Homo sapiens: one gene and its partners. The protein of the gene in region 1 purifies or fractionates together with the protein of each later gene. This does not show direct contact. Each region holds a gene or a part of one and is shown in the gene's direction. Other genes may lie near its edges. The genes, in order: MCRIP1, EIF4ENIF1, CEP135, ITM2B and ECH1.

The links.
Region 2: the proteins of MCRIP1 (region 1) and EIF4ENIF1 fractionate together in Homo sapiens (co-fractionation; one large-scale study listed by IntAct). This does not show direct contact.
Region 3: the proteins of MCRIP1 (region 1) and CEP135 purify together in Homo sapiens (co-immunoprecipitation; one large-scale study listed by IntAct). This does not show direct contact.
Region 4: the proteins of MCRIP1 (region 1) and ITM2B purify together in Homo sapiens (co-immunoprecipitation; one large-scale study listed by IntAct). This does not show direct contact.
Region 5: the proteins of MCRIP1 (region 1) and ECH1 purify together in Homo sapiens (co-immunoprecipitation; one large-scale study listed by IntAct). This does not show direct contact.

The regions. Positions count from the first base shown.
Region 1 is NC_000017.11:81,826,784-81,830,301, reverse strand, and holds part of MCRIP1 (mapk-regulated corepressor-interacting protein 1), read left to right. Parts: intron 1-3,518. UniProt on the Homo sapiens protein: The phosphorylation status of MCRIP1 functions as a molecular switch to regulate epithelial-mesenchymal transition. Unphosphorylated MCRIP1 binds to and inhibits the transcriptional corepressor CTBP(s).
Region 2 is NC_000022.11:31,483,336-31,486,853, reverse strand, and holds part of EIF4ENIF1 (eukaryotic translation initiation factor 4E transporter), read left to right. Parts: intron 1-3,518. UniProt on the Homo sapiens protein: EIF4E-binding protein that regulates translation and stability of mRNAs in processing bodies (P-bodies). Plays a key role in P-bodies to coordinate the storage of translationally inactive mRNAs in the cytoplasm and prevent their degradation.
Region 3 is NC_000004.12:55,955,428-55,958,945, forward strand, and holds part of CEP135 (centrosomal protein of 135 kDa), read left to right. Parts: intron 1-1,795; coding exon 1,796-1,937; intron 1,938-3,518. UniProt on the Homo sapiens protein: Centrosomal microtubule-binding protein involved in centriole biogenesis. Acts as a scaffolding protein during early centriole biogenesis.
Region 4 is NC_000013.11:48,253,706-48,257,223, forward strand, and holds part of ITM2B (integral membrane protein 2B), read left to right. Parts: intron 1-102; coding exon 103-231; intron 232-2,471; coding exon 2,472-2,678; intron 2,679-3,518. UniProt on the Homo sapiens protein: Plays a regulatory role in the processing of the amyloid-beta A4 precursor protein (APP) and acts as an inhibitor of the amyloid-beta peptide aggregation and fibrils deposition. Plays a role in the induction of neurite outgrowth.
Region 5 is NC_000019.10:38,821,788-38,825,305, reverse strand, and holds part of ECH1 (delta(3,5)-Delta(2,4)-dienoyl-CoA isomerase, mitochondrial precursor), read left to right. Parts: intron 1-1,908; exon of another isoform or gene 1,909-2,466; intron 2,467-3,518. UniProt on the Homo sapiens protein: Isomerization of 3-trans,5-cis-dienoyl-CoA to 2-trans,4-trans-dienoyl-CoA.

The DNA.
Region 1 (3,518 bases):
TCCTGTCCATCATCGTATTGGATAAGGAGCCACAGAGACCTCACTGAGCTGCTGGCTTTCCATGGCTGTGCTTCCGTCCCTATTGGAGCAGGCGAGCCTACCTGTGGGCTGCATCACTTTGAATGAGGATGCTGAGGCTCAGAGGAGCTTGCCCGGGGCCCCAGAGCAGGGGAATACCTGCAGCCCAGTAGGCCAGGCCCTGTAGGCTGGACGGCCACGGAAGCAGGCAGTCACGTCCTGCAGAATGCACAGACTTGCAGGTGGCCTGTGCTCTGTGTGGCTGGTGGCAGGTAGTCCTGTGGCAAAGGCTGTTGGGGCAGGAGTGGAGCAGCAGGTGACACCTGGTAAAACAAGTTGGGACTGGACAGTGGGCTTGATGGCAGCAGAGGGCCTGGGTGACACCCTAGTGCTAAGTGACTTGGGGATAGGGTTTCAGGAAGATCATGTAGACATCTGTGTCCACCTGTCCTGATGCTGGGTGTCTGGAACTGGAGGTTGTCCCAGCACTGGGTGGGGTGGGGTGGCGTGGGATGTGGAAGACTTTGAGGGGAAGGGGAGAAAACACCTAAAGACCATGTAGCCTGAGGGGCTCTGGAAGGGTGGTCCTGGGCCAGGAGAGTGTCATCGAGGGTCCTCCCATGTGAGACCCCAGCCATTGTGAGCTGCGCTATATTTTACAGTACATTGAGAAATAAAAACCACCATTGGTTAAATTCTGACGTGTTAGCAATTGTCAGGCGCAGCCCAGTTTCAAAGATGTTAAAATATGAAAACTATGAAAGAAAACTCTCAGAGGCAGTGGGGTGTGGTGTAGCGACTGAGGAGTACGGGGCCGTGGCCGGGACATCGGCATGCTCGGTCTTGATTCTGACAGAAAGAGGGAAGGAAAACGGGACCGAGGCATCGCCTGACCCTCCCTTACTGCTGTCACCCTGGTGGTGGCCCAGGTGGGATGAAGGCAGGGGGCCGGGCTGGATGGGGTCTCGAGACCTCTGAAGTGGGGCTGTCTCTCTGGGCTGAATGGAGCCCCTCCCTCCCACCCTTCACCTGTGGTCGGCCTCGGTCAGGCCGCCACTCCCCTTTACCTGGGCAGCTGAGGTGTCAGTCTCCTGCTGGCTCAGGGGCTGCCACCTCAGGTGGCCGTCTGCCGTGTGCTGGGTCTTTTCCGGCTGCCCCCGGCGCTTCTCTGGGCCTGTGCCATTGTCCCCTGCTCACTCTCACCCACTATGGTCCTGGGTCCCTCCACATCCACCACCTCAGGGACCCCATGCATGGATGTTGTGCCTCAGGGTTCCCTCTGCTTAGCCAGACACCAGCCTGCTGCCCACCAGGCCTGAGCTAGGGCTGAGCTGCCTGCCAGCCACACTTCCTGCCCTCCCCCCTCAGCTGTGTGCCTCACTATGCTAGGCCGCCCCGCTGAGGTTGTTGGAGGCCTTATTGTGGCTCCATGGTGACCTCTTGGTTCAGAGCTTGCTTGACCTCCAGCCCTCTCCGTGGATGGCTCCTTCCTGCCCTCACAGGCACCGTCCTGGCCCCGGCTCCAGTTATGTCCATGCCTCGGCCCTCTGCAGCTTCCTCCCATTCCATGTGTCCCAGGGCCTGTCTGTGGCCCCTCAGGTCCTGCTCTTGTGCTTGGTGTCCGTCTCTGCGTGGGGGCTGTGGTGCCCCCTCTGGCTGCTGATTCCCTTATGGGAATAGGCCAGGTGTGCATTGCTACCCTTCTGCGGTGGCTCTTCCCTTTGGGTAATTACGAGTGAAATTCTCCAGCTGTCCTTGTACGCATCTTGGGTGTGTGTACCTAGGAGCAGAATGGCTGGGTCATAGGTTGTGCACAGATACTTGATTTTTAATGGAAAATTCCTTCTGGGTCAGAATTGGGCACCCAGCTCCTTGGCAGGGCCCCAGGAGGCAGTGAGGCTGAATGAGCTGCAGAACCGTTTATTGTGCTTCCAGGGGGACAGCAGGCCCCTGGCCTCTTGGAACTGCTGGCACATCCAGGAAAGCCTGGGGCTATGTGTGCAGGGTCGGGGGGTGGGGGGGCAGTGTGAGGCCCTGGGGGTCCCTAAGCTGGAGGAAGAAGTAGGGAGAGGTGGGAAGGGCTCTTCGTGTCTGGGAAGACTTAGAGGACACAGCCTGTGGTATTGAGGGTGTGGGTACATTTCTTTTCCTAACAAGAGGAGGCAAACGAGACTCCTTGTTGACTTAAAAAACTGTATGGGTGCAGCTGGGTGTGGTAGCTCACACCTGTAATCTCAGCACTTTGGGAGGCCGAAGCAGATGGATCACGAGGTCAGGAGATCGAGACCATCCTGACTAACACAGTGAAACCCCATCTCCACTAAAAATAGAAAAAATTAGCTGGGCGTGGTGGCGGGCGCCTATAGTCCCAGCGACTCGAGAGGCTGAGGCAGGAGAATGGCGTCAACCCGGGAGGCGGAGCTTGCAGTGAGCCAAGATCGCGCCACTGCACTCCACCCTGGACGACAGAGCGAGACTCCATCTCAAAAAAAAAAAAAAAAAAAAAATGTATGGGTGCACAATAGGTGTATATATTTATGGGGTTTTAAATTTATTTACTTAGAGACAGAGTCTCCCTCTGTCACCCAGGCTGGAGTGCAGTGGTATGATCATGGCTCACCACAGCCTCCACCTCCCAAGCTCAAGCAATCCTACCACCTCAGCCATCACTCCTGCCAAAGTTTTTATATTTTTGTAGAAATGGGATTTTGCCGGCCGGGCGTGGTGGCTCACGACTGTAATCCCAGCACTTTGGGAGGCCCAGGTGGGTGGATCACAAGGTCAGGAGATCGAGACCATCCTGGCTAACAGGACGAAATCCCGTCTCTACTAATAATACAAAAAATTAGCTGGGCGTGGTGGCGGGCTTCTGTAGTCCCAGCCACTTGGGAGGCTGAGGCGGGAGAATGGCGTGAACCCGGGAGGCGGAGCTTGCAGTGAGCCAAGATGGCGCCACTGCACTCCAGCCTGGGCAGCAGAGCGAGACTCCATCTCAAATAAATAAATAAATAAATAAATAAAAGAAATGGGATTTTGCCATGTTGCCCAGGCTGGTTTTGAACTCTTGGGCTCAAGTGATCTGCCCTCTTTAGCCTCCCAAAGTGTTGGGATTACAGGCCTATTTTAATAGGCCAGCAACCGTACCTGGCTTTTTTTTTTTTTCTTTTAGACGGAGTCTTGCTCTGTCGCCCAAGCTGGAGTGCAGTGGCACGATCTCGGCTCACTGCAACCTCCGCCTCCCAGGTTCAAGCACTTCTCCTGCCTCAGCCTCCTGAGTAGCTGGGACCACAGGTGCCCACCACCACATCCAGCTAATTTTTGTATTTTTAGTAGAGACAGGGTTTCACCATATTGGCCAGGCTGGTCTTGAACTCCTGACCTTGTGATCCACCCGCCTCGGCCTCCCAAAGTGCTGGGATTACAGGCGTGAGCCACCACGCCTGGCCTTTTTTTTTTTTTTTTTTTTGAGATGGAGTCTTGCTCTGTCGCCCAGGCTGGAG
Region 2 (3,518 bases), on another chromosome or scaffold:
CCGCCTTGGCCTCCCAAAGTGCTGGGATCACAGGCGTGAGCCACTGCGCCCAGCCGTTCCAGTACTTATTTTTTTGTTTCTTTGAGACGGAGTCTCGCTCTATCACCAGAGTGCAATGGTGCGATCTTGATTCACTAGCCTCTGCCTCCTGGGTTCAAGTGATTATCCTGCATCAGCCTCCCAAGTAGCTGGGACTACAGGCGTGCGCCACCATGCCCAGCTAATTTTTGTAGTTTTAGTGGAGACGGGATCTTGCCATGTTGGCCAGGCTGGTCTTGAAATCCTGAACTCAAGTGATTCACCTGCCTCAGCCTCCCAAAGTGCTGGGATTACACGTGTGAGCCACTGCACCTGGCCCCCTTCCAGTACTTTTTGTTTATTATTTTTTTTGAGCCGGAGTCTCACTGTGTCGCCCAGGCTGGAGTGTAGTGGTGCAATCTCGGCTCACTGCAACCTCTGCCTCCCTGGTTCAAGCGATTCTCCTGCCTCAGCCTCCCAAGTAGCTGGGACTACAGGTGCACGCTGCCACACCCAGCTAATTTTGTTTTTGTATTTTTATTTTTATTTTTATTTTTTTTTTTTTGAGACGGAGTTTCGCTCTTGTCGCCGAGGCTGGAGTGCAATGATGCTATCTCGGCTCACTGCAGTCTCCGCCTCCGGGGTTCAAGTGATTCTGCTGCCTCAGCCTCCCAAGTAGCTGGGATTACAGGCATGTGCCACCACGCCCAGCTCATTTTTGTATTTTTAGTAGAGACAGGGTTTTGCCATGTTGGCCAGGCTGGTCTCAAACTCCTGACCTCGCTGGTCTCGAACTCCTGACCTCAGGTGATCCACCCGCCTCGGCCCCCCAAAATGCTGGAATTATAGGTGTGAGCCACTGCACCTGGCCTATTTTTTTTTGTATTTTTAGTAGAGACGGTTTCACTGTGTTGCTGGTGTTGAACTCCTGAGCTCAGGTGATCCACCCACCTAGGCCTCCCAAAGTGCTGGGATTATAGGTGTGAGCCACCGAGCCTGGCCCCTTCCAGTACTTTTATTTTTATTTTTTTGAGATGGAGTTTCACTCCTGCTGCTCAGGCTGGAGTGCAATGGCACGATCTTGGCTCACTGCAACCTCCGCTTCCCGGGTTCAAGCAATTCTCCTGCCTCAGCCTCCTGAGTAGGTGGGATTACAGGCATGCACCACCATGCCTGGCTAATTTTGTATGTTGGTCAGTCCTGTCTTGAACTCCTGACCTCAGGTGATCCACCCACCTCAGCCTTCCAAAGTGCTGGGATTATAGGTGTGAGCCACCACACCCACCCTTTCCAGTATTTTTTTCACTAAAGTTCTAACCAGTAGTCTACTGGTAGAGTCCAGGCAGAGAGGCTTTTGAATCACTTTCACACACCGATCAGAGGTTAACATGTATATTTCATCTTTGTGTATGTTTCTATCTTTATGCTTACATCATTTTTAGGGAGATATTTCTCTTTCTTAGGGTAGGACTTATGTTTCTTTGCAGTAAAGATTAAGAACCTCAGTATTGTCCATTTTTGACAGTCCAGCCTCAGAATTCTGTCATACGTAGATAAATGTGCCTTGAAGAACTGGTTAAAAGCATTTTTTAGCTTAATGACAGTGGAGCTTAGATTTAAGTCTTTTCTACCAAATTAATTGGAAATAGGTTTACTTTCTACTCTTAAGAGGATTTAGTTAATGACAATTTTAGGATAGTGTTTAGGCAGTGTTAGGGTAGTGCTTTCATGGTTTTCAACACTCTAGTAATTCTATGCGGGACTTGGGGATAAAGAAGTCTTCTCCCTTTAAAGAGAGCTTGAAATGATTATGTGTTCCTAGCACTATAATAAATATGTTAGTTCCACAACTGGAATAATATTCAAACCATCCTTCTTCCTTGTCTATGTACTGAGATCAAAGTACTGGAATAAATAGACTTTAATGATGTTTCTGCCACTTCAAGTTCACGGGCTAGAAGATCTAGAAGCAGTAGAGGGAAACTGTTTTCACTGGTGATTTTGAGGTGGAGTTTCACTCTTGTTGCCCAGGCTGGAGTGCAATGGCGCCATCTCCGCTCACCGCAACCTCCGCCCCAGGTTCAACCTATTCTCCTGCTTCACCTTCCTGAGTAGCTGGGATTACAAGCATGCGCCACCACGCCCGGCTAATTTTTGTCTTTTTAGTAGTGACAGGGTTTCTCCATGTTGGTCAGGCTGGTGTCAAACTCCCGACCTCAGGTGATCCGCCCACCTTGGCTTCCCAAACTGCTGGGATTACAGGTGTGAGCCGGCCGGTGATTTTTTTTTTTTTTTAAATAGGTGGTGTATTCTGTGGAAACTTGTAGCTGTGTATGTTTACTTACAGGGTCAAAAAAACACGTTGGCCAGATGAGAGGGCCCCTTAACCATTGACCCTTCTTAGTTTAGTGTTCAGTTGCTTTCTGGGATAATGTTAGTAGTTTGTTGTTCAGAATTCGAAGAGTTTTTGTTTTTCCCCCATGAGTAGAAGAAGTATAAATGTTTTGGTCAGGTGCTTTTCAGAGTAATGTACCAGAGTTTCCTTTTGTGTGAAGACATCCTTTAGTTAGCTTGTTTCGCAAATGTTAATATGCCTGGGGGATCACCTTTAGGCCTTGGGAAAGGAATTCTGAGTGGTAAGCAGGGGTGGTCCTGAAGATTCTACTTTTTAACCCACTCCCAAGTGGTGCACATGCTGCTGGTCCACTGACTATACTTTAAGTATCAAGGCTTTGGTCTTCCTTAGAGAACTTGATAAATGGTGTTGGTGGTGTCAAGTAACTCAGATGCATAGTTATTCTTTGGGGTTCAGATGATGTTCATTGTGCTTCGAAGAATATTTTAGGACCTCAAGTTAGAGTCACATTGGGTGCATTCAGACCTACTCCTAAATCTCATTGTGGGATGGTTATAAATGGGTTTATCATATGCACCTGTTACCCTGAGGGTCTTGAACCCCTAAGTTATAAATGCTGGTCTGTTTTCTAGGCCACATTCCTAAGACCAAAAGCTATATTTTGGTAGTATCTAAGTATGCATTTTTAAAGTGATCGGATCATGTTGAAGGACTTTTGGAGGTTATAGAGTGGGGTCTCACCTGAAAGTTATGGTTTAAGAGTGGTTTAGACAGTGGTTCTCAAAGTGTGCTCCCTGAACTAGCATTAGCATCATCTGGTAACTTGTTAGAAATACAAATCTCAGGCCTCTTCTCAGTGGTATTAAAGGAGAAACTTGGGGAGTAGAGCTTAACCGTCTGCATTTAACAAGCTCTTCAGGGGATTCTGGCTCTGGTTCAAGTTTGAGAACCATTGGCTTAAGAAATGATCACCTGCTCGCTGGGTGTGGTGGCTCACACTTGTAATCCCAGCAGTTAGGGAGACTGAGATGGGAGGATTGCTTGAGCCCAGGAGTTCAAGACCAGCCTGGGCAGGATGACAAGACCCTGTCACTACAAAAAAAATTTAAAAATTAGCTAGGTATGGTGGCGTATTGCCTGTAGT
Region 3 (3,518 bases), on another chromosome or scaffold:
CCTGAGAGTGGACAGATTAGAACTGTGAAGCCAGGTGGGGGAAGACTCAGTGGAGCGTGAGATAGTTTAGTAAATGAGATAGATGGACATGGGGACTGTGAGCAAAAGGCAGAAGAGATAGAGAAAAGTGGGAGTCAACCTTGAAAGTAACTAGAAGATTAAGGCAAAAAAGAGGATAATCAGGTTTCCTGAGGAAAGAATGGGATAGACTCCGGAGAGATTCAAGATGTATAATCAAGATAGTGAGTAAATGTAGATTTGGGAAGCAGAGGAATTCTCAGACTTCTCTTTCGAGTGAATGAGTTAGGTGGAGGGTGATACTATTTCTTAAGTTAGAGAATGTGGGAAGCAGAGCAGGAGTCCACTTTTGGATGTGTGGAGTATGCTATACCCACAAGACATTCATGTCTAAATTTTTGGCAAACAGTGGGATATGTAGATCTGTTCTCAAAAGTGTGGGCCCTGGTGGAGATGCAAATTTAAGAGTCATTGGAGTCTCATGGTAATTGAAGCTATGGGTGTAGTAAGAATTATCTAGTGAGATTATGTAGACTGGGAAGAGAGGAGACCCAGAGTCAGATGTGAGGGAAATTGGTATTTAAGGGACAGGTGGAAGAAGACAGTTTCTGAAAGAAACTGAGGAGCCACCAAGGAGGAAAACCAGGAGGTAAAGAAAGAAGGAATGGTTAGCTTTGTTCAGGTGTGTGAACAAACAGGTCATTTAAATACTTTTGGCCCAGTTTTCTTATCCTTAAAACTCCTTTTGTATACTCCTACCTCTGTAGGAGTATACAAAATTTGTTAGAATTCTAATGAGACAAAATTGTGGATTATGTTTGTTCTTCACAAGGATCTGCTGGTTTTTCAAATACACTTCTAATCTTGGCAAAATCCTTAAAGAGATAAATTGTCCATGTATTTTTGACCAAGACAAGATATATCTAGCCATAAGAAAATTTAGTCCTACTACTTGTAGAGGTTAAGAAAACATTCCCTCCTAATTCAGATTATAGCATGACTTTATATTATAGATGACATTCCATTCATTCTAACTTTGCTACTTACAATTTCAGTTATCTTTTATGTTGATATTAGCTAATAACCACGCATATTTTAGTTCTCACTGCCAGTTTTCTGCTAGTGATAATTTCTTGAGCTCATAATAGTGAACACCACAGGCACATTCAGCTTTTTTTTTTTGAGATGGAGTTTCACTCTTGTTGCCCAGGTTAGAGTGCAGTGGCGCAATCTTGGCCCACCACAACCTCGGCCTCCCGGGTTCAAGAGATTCTCCTGCCTCAGCCTCCCAAGTAGCTGGGATTACAGGTGCCCGTTACCACGCCCAGCTAATTTTTTTGTATTTTTAGTAGAGACGGGGTTTCACCATGTTGGCCAGGCTTGGTCTCGAACTCCCAACCTCAGGTGATCCACCCGCCTCGGCCTTCCAAAGTGCTGGGATTATAGGTGTGAGCCGCCATACCTGGCCGCATTCAGCTTTTAAACTTGCCAAAGTCTTATCCCCATCTAGTGGGCAAACATATTAAGCCTGGGCATATATGCCAAGCTTGCAGGCATATAAAACTTGTTTGATAACCATGTCTTGTTGAGGTTTTTAGGAATGCATTGTTTAGTTAAAGATCAGGGTGGATATTTATATATTGATGGAGAAAATATTTTGTCAATATGTATTATGAACTGCAGACACACTTTATAACCGAAAGGCTAACCTGGAATATTTAATTCTAAGACATGGTTTTGTTTCTTCTTAGTTTTTTAAGACACTCATTCTTTTTAGGTGGCAAGAAAAGAAGTATTGCTTTCAGGCGCCAGCGTATGCAAATTGATGAACCGGTTCCTCCCTCTGAAGTCAGTTCATATCCAGTTCCTCAACCAGATGACCCTTACATTGCAGACCTCCTTCAAGTGGCTGATAACAGGTGCATTAAATAATTCTTTCTTGGCTTGAGTTAATTGAGCACTCAATTAGCTGTAAGTTTCTTGATAGGAGGGCTTTTTTTCTTGTTAACTGTTGTGTCTCCAGTGTCTAGCACAGAACTTTGCACCGGCACTCAGTAAATACTTCCAGATTGATATAAAATGTTTTTACTTGTTTTGAAACTTTGATCAAATGGATCATATATCTAAGGTTTCTGTTCATACTGGCTTAAAAATTATTGCCATCAAGAACCTGTTTAAGTAGAGCTGCTTTGACATTTTGTGTTGTCTCCAAATAAGAGGTATCTTTTGCAAGAATCTTTATTGCTTCAGATTTGTGTCAAATGTCAGTTAAATATGAAGAGATGTGTAACTGGATTTGAAATTCCTTTTTTAATGGTTTCTCTAGCTCTGTGTTTATATTTCCTTACATTTGAATCATATATAAATTCCATTTGATTGAAATGTTATTAAACCTCCTGGGCAAGGCACTGTGTAAGTGTTCTGAGGATATAAAGATGAAGAAGATGGTGTTTCTGTTTTTGAGAAGCTTGTAGTCCAGTACTAGAGATGAGATGAGAAATTCACAAAACACCATTAAGAAAATTATAAGAGGCTCAAAGGAATGGATGAGCACTAGTCTCCACGGTGATAGCTGGAGAAGCATTTCAAACTGTAGAATACACTAATGGAAATAGTTCATGCAGGTAGCTTTTTATTTTGTAGATTATACAGAGAATGTGGGGGGTTTTATTAATCTCAATAGATAAAGCTAAAAAAGAGCACTGGGACCAGGTGCAGTGGATCACGCCTGTTAATCCCAGCACTTTGGGAGGCCAAGGCAGGAGGATCGCTTGAACCCATGAATTCAAGACCAGCCTGGTCAATATAGTGAGACCTTTTCTCTACAAAAAATTTAAAAATTAGCCGAGCATGGTGGCATGCACCTGTAGTCCCAGCTACTTAGGAGGCTGAGGTAGGCAGATCGCTTGAACCTGGGAGGCAGAGGTTGCAATGAGCTGAGATTGAACCACTGCACTTCAGCCTGGGACACAGAGCAAGACCCTTTGAGCTACTGATTAGGATCTCTTCACTCAGTTGTCACATAATATTTTTATATAGTTGTTTGACCTTAACTGGGAAGTGTTTTGTTCTTATTATCTAGGGCTTTTCAGATAATGTGTTTGTATTATTTAGGGAATTATTTGGGCTGCATAAGTGACATTAGTCTTTTTTAATTGTCCTGTTTAATTTATATATGCACATTTTGTTTGTATTCAGAGTCATTCATGCATTTATATGAGTGCAGTTGCATACATACTCTTCTCCTAAACCTAGATTAGTAGAAAATGTTGGTTCCAGTTAACATCAGGTACAAGCCGTATCCAGCCTCATTTACTCCACCCCATGGAAAATCTCTTTTAAAAACAAACCTGGGGCTGGAAGCACTGTGGTTCACGCCTGTAATCCCAGCACTTTGGTAGGCCGAGGCAGGAGGATTGCTTAAAGCCCAGGAGTTCAAGACCAGCTTCGACAATGTGGAAAAACTCTCTCTCTACAAAAAATTTAAAAATTACCCAAGT
Region 4 (3,518 bases), on another chromosome or scaffold:
TCTTCATTTATTAAAATGATAATCATTAAGGTTTTTCTAGTCCTGAGCCTTCTGTTATTCTGTCTGGAGATAAGATATTTAACTGTCTTTTTCATATTTTAGGACCCAGATGATGTGGTACCAGTTGGCCAAAGAAGAGCCTGGTGTTGGTGCATGTGCTTTGGACTAGCATTTATGCTTGCAGGTGTTATTCTAGGAGGAGCATACTTGTACAAATATTTTGCACTTCAAGTAAGTGGAAAAATTATTTTGTGTCTCTGATTTTTTTTTTTTTTTGCCTCTCCCGATGTGCATTACAAAATTGTTTACAACTTGCGCTAAGCTTGTACTTTTTATCTGTGACCTTCAGCCAGAGTGGTAGTTCTATTTTAAAGCTGTGTTTAAACATCTCTCCATGATATGTTTGCTGAGCCCATCACACACAGTCACTAAAAGCAGAGTAACTTGAAATGTTGGTGACTAAGGGATTTATTTAGGTCATTGGGTGATTTTACTAACCTTTATTTTCCTACTATAATTAAGGGTTGAGAGGAATAGTATTATCAATTGCCAGTTGAATAAATACATCAGCCACAAATGTTTTCATGTTGATAGGCCATAACTTGATAGTCAGCTTGGACTCCCCTATGGTCCTGCTGTACCCTTGGGCCCAGAATACAGTAAGACCATGTCTCTGCTTCTTTTCCAGTCATGGTTTCACTAAAGAACTGGGTGACTTCAGCAGTGATATTGAAATAACATAGGATGAAAGTTGTTTATAACTTTGAGTGTTTAATAGTAATCCCAGTGGGTTAAGACAAAGGTCTTCCTTGTGATTGATTATAATTTACAATCTATTTTGTAATATATTTCTCTTGGCAATAATACACAATTTTTTTTTTTAGGAGTTTTGAAGGGGAAATTACTTTCAAGGTTTTATGACTACTTCAGCTGTTTCAAAATTTGGAGAAACAGTTGACAACTAGACTTATTAAAATAATTTAACTAATTTTGAAACATTCTCAATTTCATGCTCATTTTCTGTGTTGTTCAAGATAATCAATCACATGTTGATAGACATTACCAAAATACTAGTCATCTTTTTAAATACAGTTTTATTTACAAGAAATACATATAGTATAGAAAAAATCATCGCAATTCCATTTTCCAGAGATAACATTTGGTGCATTAACTTTTTTTTTTTTCTTGAGACAGAGTTTCTCTCTTGTTGCCCAGACTGGAGTCCAATGGCGCGATCTCGGCTCACTGCACCCTCTGTCTCCCGGGTTCAGGCAATTCTCCTGCCTCAGCCTCCCAAGTAGCTGAGATTACAGGCACCTGCCACCACTCCTGGCTAATTTTTGTACTTTTAGTAGAGACAGGGTTTCATCATGTTGGCCAGGCTGGTCTCAAACTCCTGACCTCAGGCGATCCACCCACCTTGGCCTCCCAAAGTGCTAGGATTACAGGCGTGACACACCATGCCTGGCCCTGTGCATTCACATTTTGTATACCCTTAGTCTTTATTGTGTGTGTAGTGTGTGTAGTGTGTGTGTGTGTGTGTGTGTGTGCGCGCGCGTGTGCGTGCGCGCACGTGTACATGTACTGTGTGTTTGGCTTTTTTTGAGATGGGGTCTCACTCTGTCATCCAGGCTGGAGTGCGGTGGTGCAATCACAGCTCACTGTAGCCTCAACCTCTTGGGCTCAGGCAATCCTCCCGCCTCAACCTCCCCAGGAGTAGCTAGGACTACAGGTGCGTGGCACCATACCCAGCTAATTTTTTTATTTTTTGTGGAGACAGGGTCTCACCATGTTGCCCAGGCTGGTCTTGAACTCCTGGGCTCAAGCAGTCCATCTGTCTCAGGCCTCCTCCCCACAAAGTATTAGGATTACAGGCATGAGTTACTGCACCCGACCTTATGTACTGTTTTTTCTTTTTGTAAAAGTGAGACAGTAGCATAAAGATTTGCTGTAATCTAATATTTTCCACTGAATTGTGATATAAAGGGAAAAGTAGAACTACGTATATGCATATAGAAATTTCAGAAAAATTATCCCTTTTTTGGCTAATAAGAAAAAAGTCATTTAATTAGTAGACCATATCAAAACTTTTTAATATATTCTTTCAGAAAAACTTGACTAGTTTTGGAATGTATTCTTCTATAAAAACTGCTTACAGGTAGAGTAGGTCTGTTGTTTCTTTATATTTATTTGTTACTGGATAGCTAATTATTTTTATGTTCTATTTTCACCTACCAGGAAAAGTAAAGGGAAAACCAGCTGCCTTTCTTCTGAAGCTGTTCTTTTACAGTGCTTCAAAACCTGATCTTAAAGAATATGTTAACTCTGTAATTAAACTGTCTGACTTGTCATCTAAAAGCAAGAGTTTGCAAGCAAAATGCTATTTAGATAGAGGTGGCAGCTTAAGTAATGCTTATTTAAAAACCTGTCTCATGCTGAATTGCTGAAATGAGTCTTTAAACTCTCTATAGCCAGATGACGTGTACTACTGTGGAATAAAGTACATCAAAGATGATGTCATCTTAAATGAGCCCTCTGCAGATGCCCCAGCTGCTCTCTACCAGACAATTGAAGAAAATATTAAAATCTTTGAAGAAGAAGAAGTTGAATTTATCAGTGTGCCTGTCCCAGAGTTTGCAGATAGTGATCCTGCCAACATTGTTCATGACTTTAACAAGGTGAGCCAAGTGTCCAGAATTGTAGAAAGAATGCAGGTTCTGTAGTTTATGCTTTTTGTAGTTTTAATTTCAATATTTGCTAATTTATTATATTTAGAGTTTAGTTTAATAAACTGTCAGCATTTGGTGGGCTCTGCTATGTCTGAAGCAGACCCTGCTGATGCAGCCTTCTCATATCTTATCTCTCCTTCCCCTTGCCTTACCTACTCTTAAAGCCCACCTCATGACTGTTCCTCCTTTGCTGGCAAACTAATATTTTTTATATGTTCCCACATTTTCTTAGATAAGAGGTAATTTATGTTCCTGTTTCTTGGTAGCATTTTCAAAATCAATAATTTTGTTAATCTGTTTTTAAGTTCTCATTCTATATTTTTCCCCAGCTTTTGAGCATTTTTATGTAATGCAGAAAAGTTGAATACCCAAAATCCTCCACTTTGTTCCAAATATTGCCATATTTGCTTCATCTCTTTTTCTGTCATTTGACATAAGTACTTATGCTATTATCTCTCAAGAATGAGTTGTCCTCCTACGTAACCACATAATTATCACATCTAAGAAAATTAACATGATCTTATAGGACAGTAGTCCCCCCTTATCCGTGGGGGATACATGCCAAGACCCCCAGTGGATGTCTGAAACTGCATATAGTACCAAACCCTGTATATACTATGTTTTTTCCTGTTAGTGTACATATATACATATGTTAAAATTTAATTTACAAATTAGCCACAGTAATAGATTAACGACAATAATAATAAAACAGTTATAACAAAATACTATAATAAAAGTTATGTGAAGGTGGTTTCTCAAAATATTTTATTATGCTGTACTCACCTAGGT
Region 5 (3,518 bases), on another chromosome or scaffold:
CTAGAACACAGGTCAACAGATGTTTACGACTCCAGTCCCCATGATCTAAGTCAAGGTCCCAGTGGGGATCCATACTGGGGATGGCTTGCTGACCGATAGGGAATTTGTCCCTTTCTTCAGGTGTCATTCTATCATTTACTTGATTAAGATTCCAGGTATCTCCAAACTCTCAGGCTGCAGCTAAAGCTGCATTCTTTTCATTAAAGGCCAGGGTTTGATCTAACAGTAGCATGACATCTCTCCAAGCGAGGTCGAAAGTTTGCCCTAGACCCTGTAGGGCATGTATGTACCTATCAGGATCATCTGAAAACTTCCCCAGGTCTGCCTTGATCTGCTTTAAATCAGAGATGGAGAAGGGGACATGTACCCGGGTGGGACCAAATTCCCCTCCCCCTACAGCTTGAAGGGGACATAACCAATAGCCAGGAGGGTTTTGTGGTCCTTTGGAGATTTCTTTGCATATTTCCTTCTGGGCAGGGGAGATTAGAGGAAGATTATCATTAATAGGAATGGGAGCTATAGGGAGGCTAGGATATGGTGGTAAGCTGAGAGGTCCTCCTGTGGGATGTAAATTGTAAGCTTTGCATAGTTGTGTATTCTCCCTCCATGAAAAGAAAGCTTGGACATAAGGTATTTCACTCCATTTGCCTTCCCTCTTACAGAAAAGGTCAAGCTGCAGGATAGTATTGTAATTTGTACTTCCCTCAGGTGGCCATTTTTCCCCATCAGAGAGAGAATACTGGGGCCAGGCCATAGTGCAGAAAAAAAATGAGCCTCCTCTTTTTCAGGGTTTATGGGTCAAATTGGTCCCAACGGCTTAGGATGCATTTCAAGGGTGAGCCTGTTGATGGCTGAATGTTTCCCATCTGAAAGACAAAACCACCCGCGGTTTTGGTTTGTTTTGTTTCTCCCCCTGCCCAAGAAACTGCAACAGTCCCTGTACCCTGCTGATCGGAATAGTTGTGCTCATCAACGCAGCAGCAGAAACACTAGTTTTCCTCTCAGACCACATGGAGGACCAAGGAAGGTCGGATTTAGTGGCCCTTACCGACGCATTCTTGAAAACCTGTTAGAGTTCTAAGCATTCTCCTGTTAGTATTGGGACTTTACCCCTGTCCTATAAAGATGTTATGCCCCAAAAATGAAGTGGAGGGCCATACCCTGAGGGAGGGAAGGGATCTCCAGGGTTGGAAGAGTGACACCTTTTGTCCTCACTTATATGAATAGGAAAGCTACAATTTCTGAGGCTCCCCATATCCTAGCTTCAGGAATACCTTTGTTAGGCCTGTTAGTCTGAGGAGGGATCGTAAAATTCCAGGTAGTCGCCACTATGACAGGGCTTTGGGCAAAAATTATGTCTTTCTGATTGGTGAGCCTGGGTGCCTAAAGAATGTAACAGAGTTCTAGAAGTCGTTCTTATAGGAGAAACTAGAAAAGCACCAGAGACAGCAAATTTTAGAAGCAGGACTAAACTCGGAGAAGAGAGGTGAGAGGAAGTTTGTCTGGCAGGCATTAGGACCCGGGGGCAAGAGTCAGGATAGATAGGATAGATGGGCGAGTCTCGCTTGGGCGACATGCCTTTGAGTGTTCCGCTCATGGCTGCAGGGTCAACGAACTTGTTGTCTTGTCGGGACCCTAGAGCTGCATGGCTTTCCTCTCTGTCGACCCTCGGCTCAGCCCAGAAGTACAGGAAAAGCAGAAGCTGGTTCTAGGCAAACCAACGCTCCCAACTCCAAAGAGTCGGGAGTTGTTAGAGAGCCCTTTCCCAGAAAGCCTGACACCCATGTCTTTAGTCCAGCGGCCATGCTAGTCACTTTTAACTGGCAGACAGGTGCCTGGTATTTAGCCCCCAAATTCTAAGGAAAAATAGGACAGAATAGCAAGTGAAAGGGGTCCAGTGGTACTCACTGCTTGGCGATAGGTGATAGTCTCACCGCTCAGCGATAGGCAGTGGTCTCACCGCTTGGCGATAGGTAATAGTCCCATCTGGGTCACCAAAATGTATCCGGAATTGGTGGGTTCTTGGTCTCACTGACTTCAAGAATGAAGCCGCAGAATCTCGTGGTGAGTGTTACAGTTCTTAAAGGCGGCATGTCCGCAGTTTGTTCCTTCTGATGTGTTCGGAGTTTGTTCCTTCTGATGTTTGGGTGTGTTCAGAGTTTCTTCCTTCTGGTGGGTTCGTGGTCTCGCTGGCTTCAGGAATGAAGCTGCAGACCTTCGCAGTGAGTGTTATAGCTCTTAAGGCGGTGCGTCCAGAGTGGTTCGTTCCTCCCGTCCGGAGTTGTTCATTCCTCCCAGTGGGTTCGTGGTCTTGCTGGCCTCTGGAGAGAAGTTGCAGACCTTCGCGGTGAGTGTTATGGCTCATAAAGGCAGTGTGGACCCAAAGAGTGAGCAGCAGCAAGATTTATTGCAAAGAGCAAAAGAACAGAGCTTCCATAGCATGGAAGGGGACGTGAGTGGGTTGCCACTGCTGGCTCGGACAGCCTGCTTTTATTCCCTTATCTGTCCCCACCCACATCCTGCTGGTTGGTCCGTTTTACAGAGAGCTGATTGGTCTGTTTTACAGAGAGCTGATTGGTCCATTTTGACAGGGTGCTGACTGGTGCGTTTACAATCCCTGAGCTAGACACAAAACTTCTCCAAGTCCCCACTAGATTAGCTAGACACAGAGCACTGATTGGTGCATTTACAAACCTTGAGCTAGACACAGGGTGCTGATTGGTGTATTTACAAACCTTGAGCTAGACACACAGTGCTGATTGGTGTATTTACAATCCCTTAGCTAGACATAAAGATTCTCCAAGTCCCCACCAGATTAGCTAGATACAGAGTGCTGATTGGTGCATTTACAAACCTTGAGCTAGACATAGGGTGCTGATTGGTGCATTTACAAACCTTGAGCTAGACACAGAGTGCTGATTGGTTGTTTACAATCCCTTAGCTAGACATAAAGAGTCTCCAAGTCCCCACCAGATTAGCTAGATACAGAGTGCTGATTGGTGCATTTACAAACCTTGAGCTAGACACAGGGTGCTGATTGGTGCATTTACAAACCTTGAGCTAGACACAGAGTGCTGATTGGTTGTTTACAATCCCTTAGCTAGACATAAAGTTTCTCCAAGTCCCCACCAGATGAGCTAGACACAGAGCATTGATTGGTGCATTTACAAACCTTGAGCTAGACACAGGGTGCTGATTGGTGCATTTACAAACCTTGAGCTAGAAACAGAGTGCTGATTGGTGTATTTACAATCCCTTAGCTAGACATAAACGTTCTCCAAGTCCCCACCAGATTAGCTAGATACAGAGTGCTGATTGGTGCATTTACAGTCCCTCAGCTAGACATAAATGTTCTCCAAATCCCCACTAGACTCAGGAGCTCAGCTGGCTTCACCCAGTGGATCCTGCACCAGGGCCGCAGGCGGAGCACTCCTCAGCCCTTGGGCAGTTGATGGGACCAGGCGCCGCCGAGCAGGGGGTGGCGCTCCTCGGGGAGGCTCGGGCTGTGCAGGAGCCCA